Regions from separate parts of the Homo sapiens genome. Here region 1 is linked to region 2. The links come from fine-mapping of genetic effects on gene expression. A gene starts in region 2. The other region holds a variant in brackets. All regions are shown on one strand. Distances are from middle to middle.

Region 1 (4,000 bases), 22 kb before region 2:
TCTCATACTCCTGACCTCAAGTGATCCTCCTGCCTTGGCCTCTTAAAGTGCTGGGATTACAGACGTGAGCCACTGAGCCTGGCCACTCTCCACATCTTTCTAGCAGTTATGAGGTGCACATGACGGGGGCCGGTCGGTGGGGAGGTGGTCCGGCCCCAGTGATGCTGGTCCCCTCCCCACAGCCTCGCTCCCCCAACCTGGCCTTGTCCTCTGACCACCGGGAGAGCATCCTGTTCCTTCCCCACCCACAGAGAGCCTGTAATCAGCTCCCCCAGGCTGCAGCCAAGGCCAGCAGCTGGGGCTGGGAGTGAGGGGGCTCTGTCCTTGAGGGCCCCAGCCAAGCCCCACCCAGTGGTCCTCCTCCACCAGCCTGCCCTGGGGCCCCCACAGTGGCTCCCTGAGAGGTCTCTGGCCCACAGCTCTAACCGCATCCCTCCCAGCTCACACACCCTCTGAGGCTCCCCATCGCCCCAAGTCCAGCACAAAATCTTTTCCACTGAATTCCTTTATTCAGTCAACAAACATTTCCAGAGCCCCCTCTGTACTGAGGCCTCAGCCCAGCCCCCAAGGAACCCTGAGGTCAGGGGAGACAGCTGGACACAGACACTTCCCCAGCCCCAGGGCCAGAGTGGGGCTGGAGGGAAGGACAGGGCTACAGTAGTAGTGGGGGTATATGAGGGAAGGCTGCAAGGATGTGGTAGCTGGAGTTTTGAGAGATGGATAAGAGTTTTCCAAGGAGGCAAAAGTGGCAGAAAAGCTTTGCAGGTGAGGAGGAGCAGCAGAAGCTTAACCTGCATGAGAATCCCTCTCACCAGTCAGAAAGTTGACCCTGCACAGCCAAGGGGTAAGCTCTGACCATTTTGCAGGGGACAGAACTGAGACCCAGAGAGGGAAAGGAACTTGCCCACTGTCACACTGCATGGAAGGGGCAAAACTGTAGGCTCCAATACTTGGGCTCTTAACCTCCTTACTCTGAGCCTTCTCACGCTTGGCATGCTGTTCCCTCTGCCAGGAATGCCTTTCCTTCCCTTGATTGCGTGAAAAGTTCCTGCCAGGTTTGGTGTCATCCCTTTGTGCCCCTTGTAGGGTGAGGACAGAAAGGGTCCCATTGGACAGGTGGGAAAACTGAAGCCCTAGGACACTCAGATACCATTAGGGTGGACTGGGACCCCAGCCTTTCCTGCCCCCTTTCAGGATCCCAAAGAGATACACGGGCTCCCCTAAAAGGCAGAGTCCCAGCCACAGCAACTGCTCTTGTCCTTGGCTTCCTCCAGAGAAACAGAGATCGGGGAGCAGAAGTCAGATCATACATTTAAAGCTACATGAGGGCCGGGCGCAGTGGCTCATGCCTGTAATCCCAGCACTTTGGGAGGCCGAGACGGGCAGATCACGAGGTCAGGAGATGGAAACCATCCTGGCTAACAAGGTGAAACCCCGTCTCTACTAAAAATACAAAAAATTAGCCGGGTGTGGTGGCGGGCGCCTGTAGTCCCAGCTACTTGGGAGGCTGAGGCGAGAGAATGGTGTGAACCCAGGAGGCGGAGCTTGCAGTGAGCCTAGATTGCGCCACTGTACTCCAGCCTGGGCGACAGAGCGAGACTCCGTCTCAAAAAAAAAAAAAAAAAAAAAGCTACATGAATGTCCCCATTGGAAATAAGACAGGAAACTCAAAACTAGGTGCTGTAGTCCCAGCTATTTAGGAGGATAAGGCAGGAGGATCACTGTAGCCCAGGAGTTCAAGACCAGCCTGGGCAACGTAGCAAGATCCTGTCTCTTAAAAATAATAATAATAAATTTAAAAAAAAAAAAGCCTGGGTGCAGTGGCTCATGCCTATTATTCCAACACTTTGGGAGGCTGAGGTGGGAGGATCACTTGAGGTTAGGAGTTCGAGATCAGCCTGGCCATCATGGTGAAACCTCATCTCTATTAAAAATAAAAAAAATTAGCCGGGTGTGGTGGTGCACACCTGTAATCCCAGCTACTCGGGAGGCTGAGGCAGGA[G/T]AATCGCTTGAACCTGGGAAGCAGAGGTTGCACTGAGCCGAGATCGCACCACTGCACTCCACCCTGGGTAACAGAGCGAGGCTCTGTCTCAAAAATAAAAATAAAAATAAAAAAAATAAAAAGAGAGAGACAGAAAAGGAAACTCAGGGGGCCAGGGCTTAAGGGGTTGGGAAGATGCGAGAGTCTTAAATTTGGTTCCTTGCTTCTTTGGGCCAGGACTCAGAGAGCCCCACTGACACATATGCCCATCTGTCTTGAACCTTAACAAATTGCAAAGGCCACAGGCTATTCTACAGGCCACGGGAGCCCCCCCAAATGCAATGTCATGGGGGTGTTCCTGAAGTAGAGGACCCTCATAAGGCCTCTGAGGCCCAGAGAGGGGCAGCTCCGGGCCTAAGGTCACACAGCCAGTCAACAGAGACCTAATCCAGAGGTCTGCGGGCAGGAGCTATGAAAAGGACAGGGAGTGGTGTTTGCCCTCTGGGTGAGCAGTGAAGGCATGAGTCTCACACCCCCGGCTTCCGCTCCACAGCATGTCCAGCTGGGGGCCCAGGGCGCTGAATGATGGCCGGTCCTGTGGGCTAGGGGCCCAGCACAGCTTCATGAGCTCGTGAACCTGAGGGGCGGGGGACAGATAATGGGGTCGTGCCTGAGCAGTCCAAAGGACACAACTCCCATTCAGCGTATTTGTTTTTGTTTTTTTGAGACGGAGTCTAGCTCTGTTGTCCAGGCTGGAGTGCAATGGCATGATCTCGGCTCACTGCAACCTCCGCCTCCCGGGTTCAAGCAATTATCCTGCCTCAGCCTCCTGAGTAGCTGGGATTATAGGCACGTGCCACCACGCCTGGCTAATTTTGTATTTTGAGTAGAGACAGGGTTTCACCATGTTGGCCAGGTTGGTCTCAAATTCCTGATCTCAGGTGATCCACCTGTCTTGGCCTCCCAAAGTGCTGGGATTATAGGCATGAGCCACCGCACTCATTCAGTTTTAAAACACAAATTAAATTCCATCCCATCTCTGCTCCAAAAACTCCCATGGCTCCCTATGGATCTTACTTATTTATTTATTTGAGATAAAGTTTCGCTCTTGTTGCCCAGGCTGGAATGCAGTGGTGCGATCTCGGCTCACTGCAAACCCTGCCTCCTGGGTTCAAGCGATTCTCCTGCCTCAGCCTCCCAAGTAGCTGGGATTACATGCACACACCGCCACACCTGGCTAAGTCTGTATTTTTAGTAGAGACGGGGTTTCACCATGTTGGTCAGGCTGGTCTTGAACTCCTGACCTCATGTAATCCACCCACCTCGGCCTCCTAAAGGGCTGGGATTACAGGTGTGAGCCACCGCGCCCAGCCCTTATGGATTTTACAACACACTTCTCCTTTCGAGACTACCCTGACCAACATGGAGAAACCCCATCTTAACTAAAAAAAAAAAAAAAAAAAAAAAAAAAAAAAAAAAAAAAAAATTACAGGTGGCGTGTGCCTGTAATCCCAGCTACTCGGGAGTCTAAGGCAGGAGAATTGCTTGAACCTGGGAGGCGGAAGTTGTGGTGAGCCGAGATTGCGCCATTGCACTCCAGCCTGGCCAACAAGAGCAAAACCACGTCTCAAAAAAAAAAAAACAACAAAAAAACACCACCTCTCCCTGATGCCCTCCTTCGCTCATCTCCATCCCTCCTTCCCTCATTTGTTCCGGGCAGTCACATCTGCCTCCATCGCACTGGTGCTTAAAGGCACCCAGCTCATTACCTCCCCAAGGCCTTTTTCCCTTCCGTGTCCTCCACTGGAAATTTCTTCTCCTAGCTTTACTCATGGGTAGGCTCCTCCTCCTTCCAGCGTCGGCCCCGTAAGAGGCCCTCTTTGACCACCCCCACCCCACCATTTCCCTCTGTTCATCTCTTTCAAGGCACTTATCACTACCATAATTTTGTCTTTGTTTTGTTTTGTTTTGTTTTGTTTTGTTTTGTTTTGTTTTGTTTTGAGACAGGGTGTCACTCTG
Region 2 (4,512 bases):
GTCCTAGCTACTTGGGAGGCTGAGACAGGAGGATGCCTTCAGCTCTGCAAGTTGAGGCTGCATTGAGCTATGATCACACCACTGCACTCCAGCCTGGGCGACAGAGCAAGACCTTATCTCTAGAAAAAAAACACAATACAAAAACTATGATCCAAAATAATGCCCTGTGGCTGGGGTGGGGCGGCATTAATGAGGGTTTTTTTGTTTTTGTTTTGAGACAGAGTCTAGCTCTGTCATCCAGGCTGGAGTGCAGTGGCACAATCTCGGCTTACTCTGCATCCTGGGTTCAAGTGATTCTCCTGCCTCAGCCTCCCAAGTAGCTGGGATTACAGGGGCACGCCACCATGCCCGGCTAATTTTTGTATTTTTGGTAGAGACGGGGTTTCACCATGTTGGCGAGGCTGGTCTGGAACTCCTGACCTCGAGTGATCCTCCTGCCTCGGACTCCCAAAGTGCTGGGATTACCGGCGTGAGAAACTGCGCCTGGCCTAATGAGGTTTAAGACAATCAGAGGACTAGGACCCCTAGGACTCAGCTTTCGCAGCTGTGAAATGGGCTGACTCCCCAGCATCCTCATTGAGGTGGTCTGCTGAGCGCAATCCAGGCCTAAAGTGTCAACTCAATTAATGTGCATTAATTTGTATATTTCTTGATGATGTGCCGGTAAGCGATCAACAAACGCCTGTTAAACCAAACAGGAAGGGCAATTGGCACAGCGGTGTGGTGGTTACTGTGGGAAGGGAAGTCTTGTGGGGGAAAGAACCTTACCAAAGGGACACTTTGATGTCACCGATGCCCAGACCAAGAATGAGCACATTCCTAGTCCCGGGAACCTTGGAGGAGCCCCATCTCTCCCACAGAGAGATTGATGTCTAGTTTTGCCCTTTATAGAAATAAAATCACACACCATAGCCTCTCTATCGTCCCCTCAACATCAGCCAATCAAGTTTTTTGGTTTGTTTGTTTGTTTTTTTGAGACGGAGTCTCGCACTGTCACCCAGGCTGGAGTGCAGTCGCACGATCTTGGCTCACTGTAGCCTCTGCCTCCTGGGTTCAAGCGATTCTCATGCCTCAGCTTCCCAAGTGGCTGGGATTACAGGCGCGCACCACAGCGCCCAGCTAATTTTTGTATTTTTAGTAGAGACGGAGTTTCACCATGTTGGCCAGGCTGGTCTCAAACTCCTGGCCTCAGGTGATTCGCCTGCCTTGGCCTCCCAAAGTGCTGTGATTACACACGTGAGCCACATTGCCCAGCCTTTTTATTTATTTATTTATTTTGTAGGGGGGAGGACGGATTCTTGTTCTGTCTCCCAGGCTGGAGTGCAGTGGCATGATCTCGGCTCACTGCAAACTCCACCTCCCAGGTTCAAGCGATTCTCCTGCCTCAGCCTCCTGAGTAGCTGGAATTACAGGCACCCGCCACCAAACCTGGCTAATTTTTGTGTTTTTAGTAGAGATAGGGTTTCACCATGTTGACCAGGCTGATCTCGAACTCCTGACCTCCAGTGATCCGCTGGCCTCAGCCTCCCAAAGTGTTGGGATTAAAGGCATGAGCCACTGTGCCCAGCCCCAGTCGAGTTTAAAATAAGGCTTCAGTGGCAGTGGCGCCCCACTGCAATCCCAGCTACTCAGGGGGCTGAGGCAGCAGGATAGCTTGAGGCCAGGGGTTAGAGACCTGCCTGAACAACATAGCAAGACTCCCATCTCCAAAACAACAAAAAAATCTTAACAGAATATTATTATTCTGTAATACTGTAACAAAAAAAAATGAAAAGTCAGAGGTGATGTTTGGTCCCAGAAAACGCCATAGTTTTTTTGGTTTTTTAAAAATGTTTGTAGAAATGGAGGTCTGGCTATGTTGCCCAGGCTGGCCTTGAACTCCTGGCCTCAAGCTATCCTCCCGCCTCGGCATCCCCTGTTTATAATCCTCAACGTTCTGCATCCTGGTATGGTCGGGTACCCTGTGTCTGGACCGGGAAGGCCTGGAGGGTAGGGGCTGGGAACTCCGCCCCCCAATCCCTCCTTCCCAATCCCTCCTCCCCACCCCCAACCCCGCAGCCCCCGTCGCGCATGCGCAATGACTCCTCCAGGTCCGCAAGGCAGGCATCTCCCGGCCTTAGTCAAAGCCGAAGCCCAGAGAAGCGAGCGATCGGAGGATGCGAGTCTCGGCTCACGTCTGCCTCGCAGCTTTCCTCCGAGGCCTGGAAGGCGAGCTAGCCTTTGCCCTGGCAGCACCCTGCCCCAGCCCAGCCATCCCCCGCCACCACCATCCTCCCCCAGTGTCTGGGCCGAGCCCTGCGGCATCGCCAGCTCTTACCTAGCGGGCAGGGACCCTGGACTTTCGAAGGGCGGGCAGAGCCGGGAGGCAGCGAGAGGAAAGTCCCACTCGGCTCCTTCCTGTGTGGGCCCCTTGGTTTCCTGAGCCACTGTCATTTACCGAAAGTCAGGGCCCTGCGGGAGCTGGGGGCGGGGAGGCGGGCAAGGAGGGGCAGAAAGTTCCGGAAGCCTCTGCATCAGCCGCCCCGTTCAGACAGGCTGCTGGAGACCCCTAAGCCAAAGGAACTGATGATAGCACAGAGAAGGGTCTGGGTCACACCAGGGGCTCAGCCGACTCTAGACCCACTTGTTAAGTGGGGCTCTGGCCCGGCCCTTATTGCCTCAGTTTACCCATCTGTAGCATGTGTGAGTTGGGCACCCAGTGGAACTAATTTTGCACCCAGGGAAGGAAACCTGGCTGGATTTGCCCAGGAGGGAAGCAGGGAAGTTGCCCCAGAGGAAGGTCAAGTTCTTCTTTGAGGTATTTCTCCCTTAAGACTCAGGGAGACGCTGGGCGCAGTGGCTCACGCCTGTCATCCCAGCACTTTGGGAGACTGAGGCGGGCGATTACTTGAGGTCAGGAGTTTGAGACCAGCCTAGCCAACATGGCGAAACTCCGTCTCTACTAAAAATACAAAAATTAGCCAGGCGTGGTGGCCTGTAATCGCAGCACTTTGGGAGGCTGAGGCGGGCGGATCACTTGAAGTCAGGAGTTTGAGACCAGCCTGGCCAACATGATGAAACCCTGTCTCTACTAAAAACAGGAAAATTAGCCAGGCCTGGTGATGCCTGTAATCCTAGCTACTCAGGAGGCTGAGGTGGGAGGATTGCTTGAATCTAGGAGGCGGATGTTACAGTGAGACGAGATGGCGCCACTGCACTCCAGCCTGGCAACAGAGCGGGACTTCGTTTAAAAAAAAAAGAAAAGACTCAGGGAGAGATAATGACCCATTTCTGCCTGTGGTGCCCTGGGCCCAGCCCTAAAAAACCAGGTGGATCCGGCCTGGCCTCTTGGAACTTGTGATCTGGCGCTGAGACAATGAGCAAATGAAGGAGCCAAATCATCGCAGACAACAAAGAAAGCCAGGGTGTCAGGACAGGCACAGACTGGAACTTGGACCCGAGGCAGGACAGGGAGCTGGCCAGGGAAAGGGTGCTCCAGGAGGAGGGCACAGGATGGGCAAAGACCTTGAGAGGGCAGTGATCTTAGCAGCTTGAAGAGCAGTCAGGAGGCCAGGGGCAGGGGTGAGATGAGGGGGAAGGGGACTGCAGGGCGGTCAACAGGGGCAAGATCGTGGGGGGACAGGGGGATCAGGGTCTTTGGGAGAAGGGTGGGTTTTGCCTGGAGCATAATCTGGAGCCACAGGAGAGTTGGAAGTAGGAGCTGTTATAAATAGAAGAGGCAGAAGGCCCGGGCAGCATCCAAATGCAGAGACTTGGGCCAGTGTTCTTAGGATAATAGGATCAGAGCCCCGGAAGTAGAGCTTCAGGAATAGACTGACGAAGTGGTGACCGGGTACAGTGGCTCACATCTGTAATTCCAGCACTTTGGAAGGCCCAGGTGGGAAGATTGCTTGAGCCTAGGAGTTCGAGACCAGCCTGGCCAACATGGTGAAACCCCATCTCTACTAAAAATATAAAAATTAGCTGGGCGTGGTGGCATGTGCCTGTAATCCCAGCTACTTGGGAGGCTGAGGCAGGAGAATCACTGGAACCCAGGAGGCAGGCGGAGGTTGTAGTGAGCTGAGATTGTGCCACCGCACTCCAGCCTGGGCGACGGAGCAATACTCTGTCTCAAAAAAAAAAAAAGGAATAGATTTAAGAAGTTGTGGCCAAGAACAGTGGCTCACACCTGTAATCTCAGCACTTTGGGAGGCTCAGGCAGGAGGATGGCTTGAGCCCAGGTGTTCGAGACCAGCCTGGGCAACATGGTGAAACCCTGTCTCTACAAAAAATACAACAACAACAAAATAATAAGCTGGATGTGGTGGCATGTGCCTGTAGTCCCAGCTACTAGGGGAGGCTGAGGTGGGAGGATCACCTGAGCCCAGGAAGTTGAGGCTGCAGTTAGCTGTGGTCATGCCACTGCACTCCAGCCTGGGCAATGGGAGTGAGATCCCGTCTCAAAAAAAAAAAAAAAAAGACTTTTCATCTCTGTATCACCATCACAAGTCTTAACACAAAATGGTTTGGTAA

The links.
Region 1: its variant is fine-mapped to the expression of JAK3 in whole blood (TOPMed, PIP above 0.99).

What each region holds. Positions count from the first base shown.
Region 1 is chr19:17,824,293-17,828,292 of GRCh38, forward strand. JAK3 (Janus kinase 3) reads right to left here. Exons shown (of 24, transcript NM_000215.4): 24 at 490-2,618. The coding sequence ends at 2,451. Among named protein-coding and RNA genes, the nearest start is that of INSL3, 4.8 kb to the left of the region's middle. The variant G/T (reference allele first, on the strand shown) is at 2,003.
Region 2 is chr19:17,845,629-17,850,140 of GRCh38, forward strand. It overlaps JAK3 (Janus kinase 3), which reads right to left and starts at 2,354. Exons shown (of 24, transcript NM_000215.4): 1 at 2,318-2,354.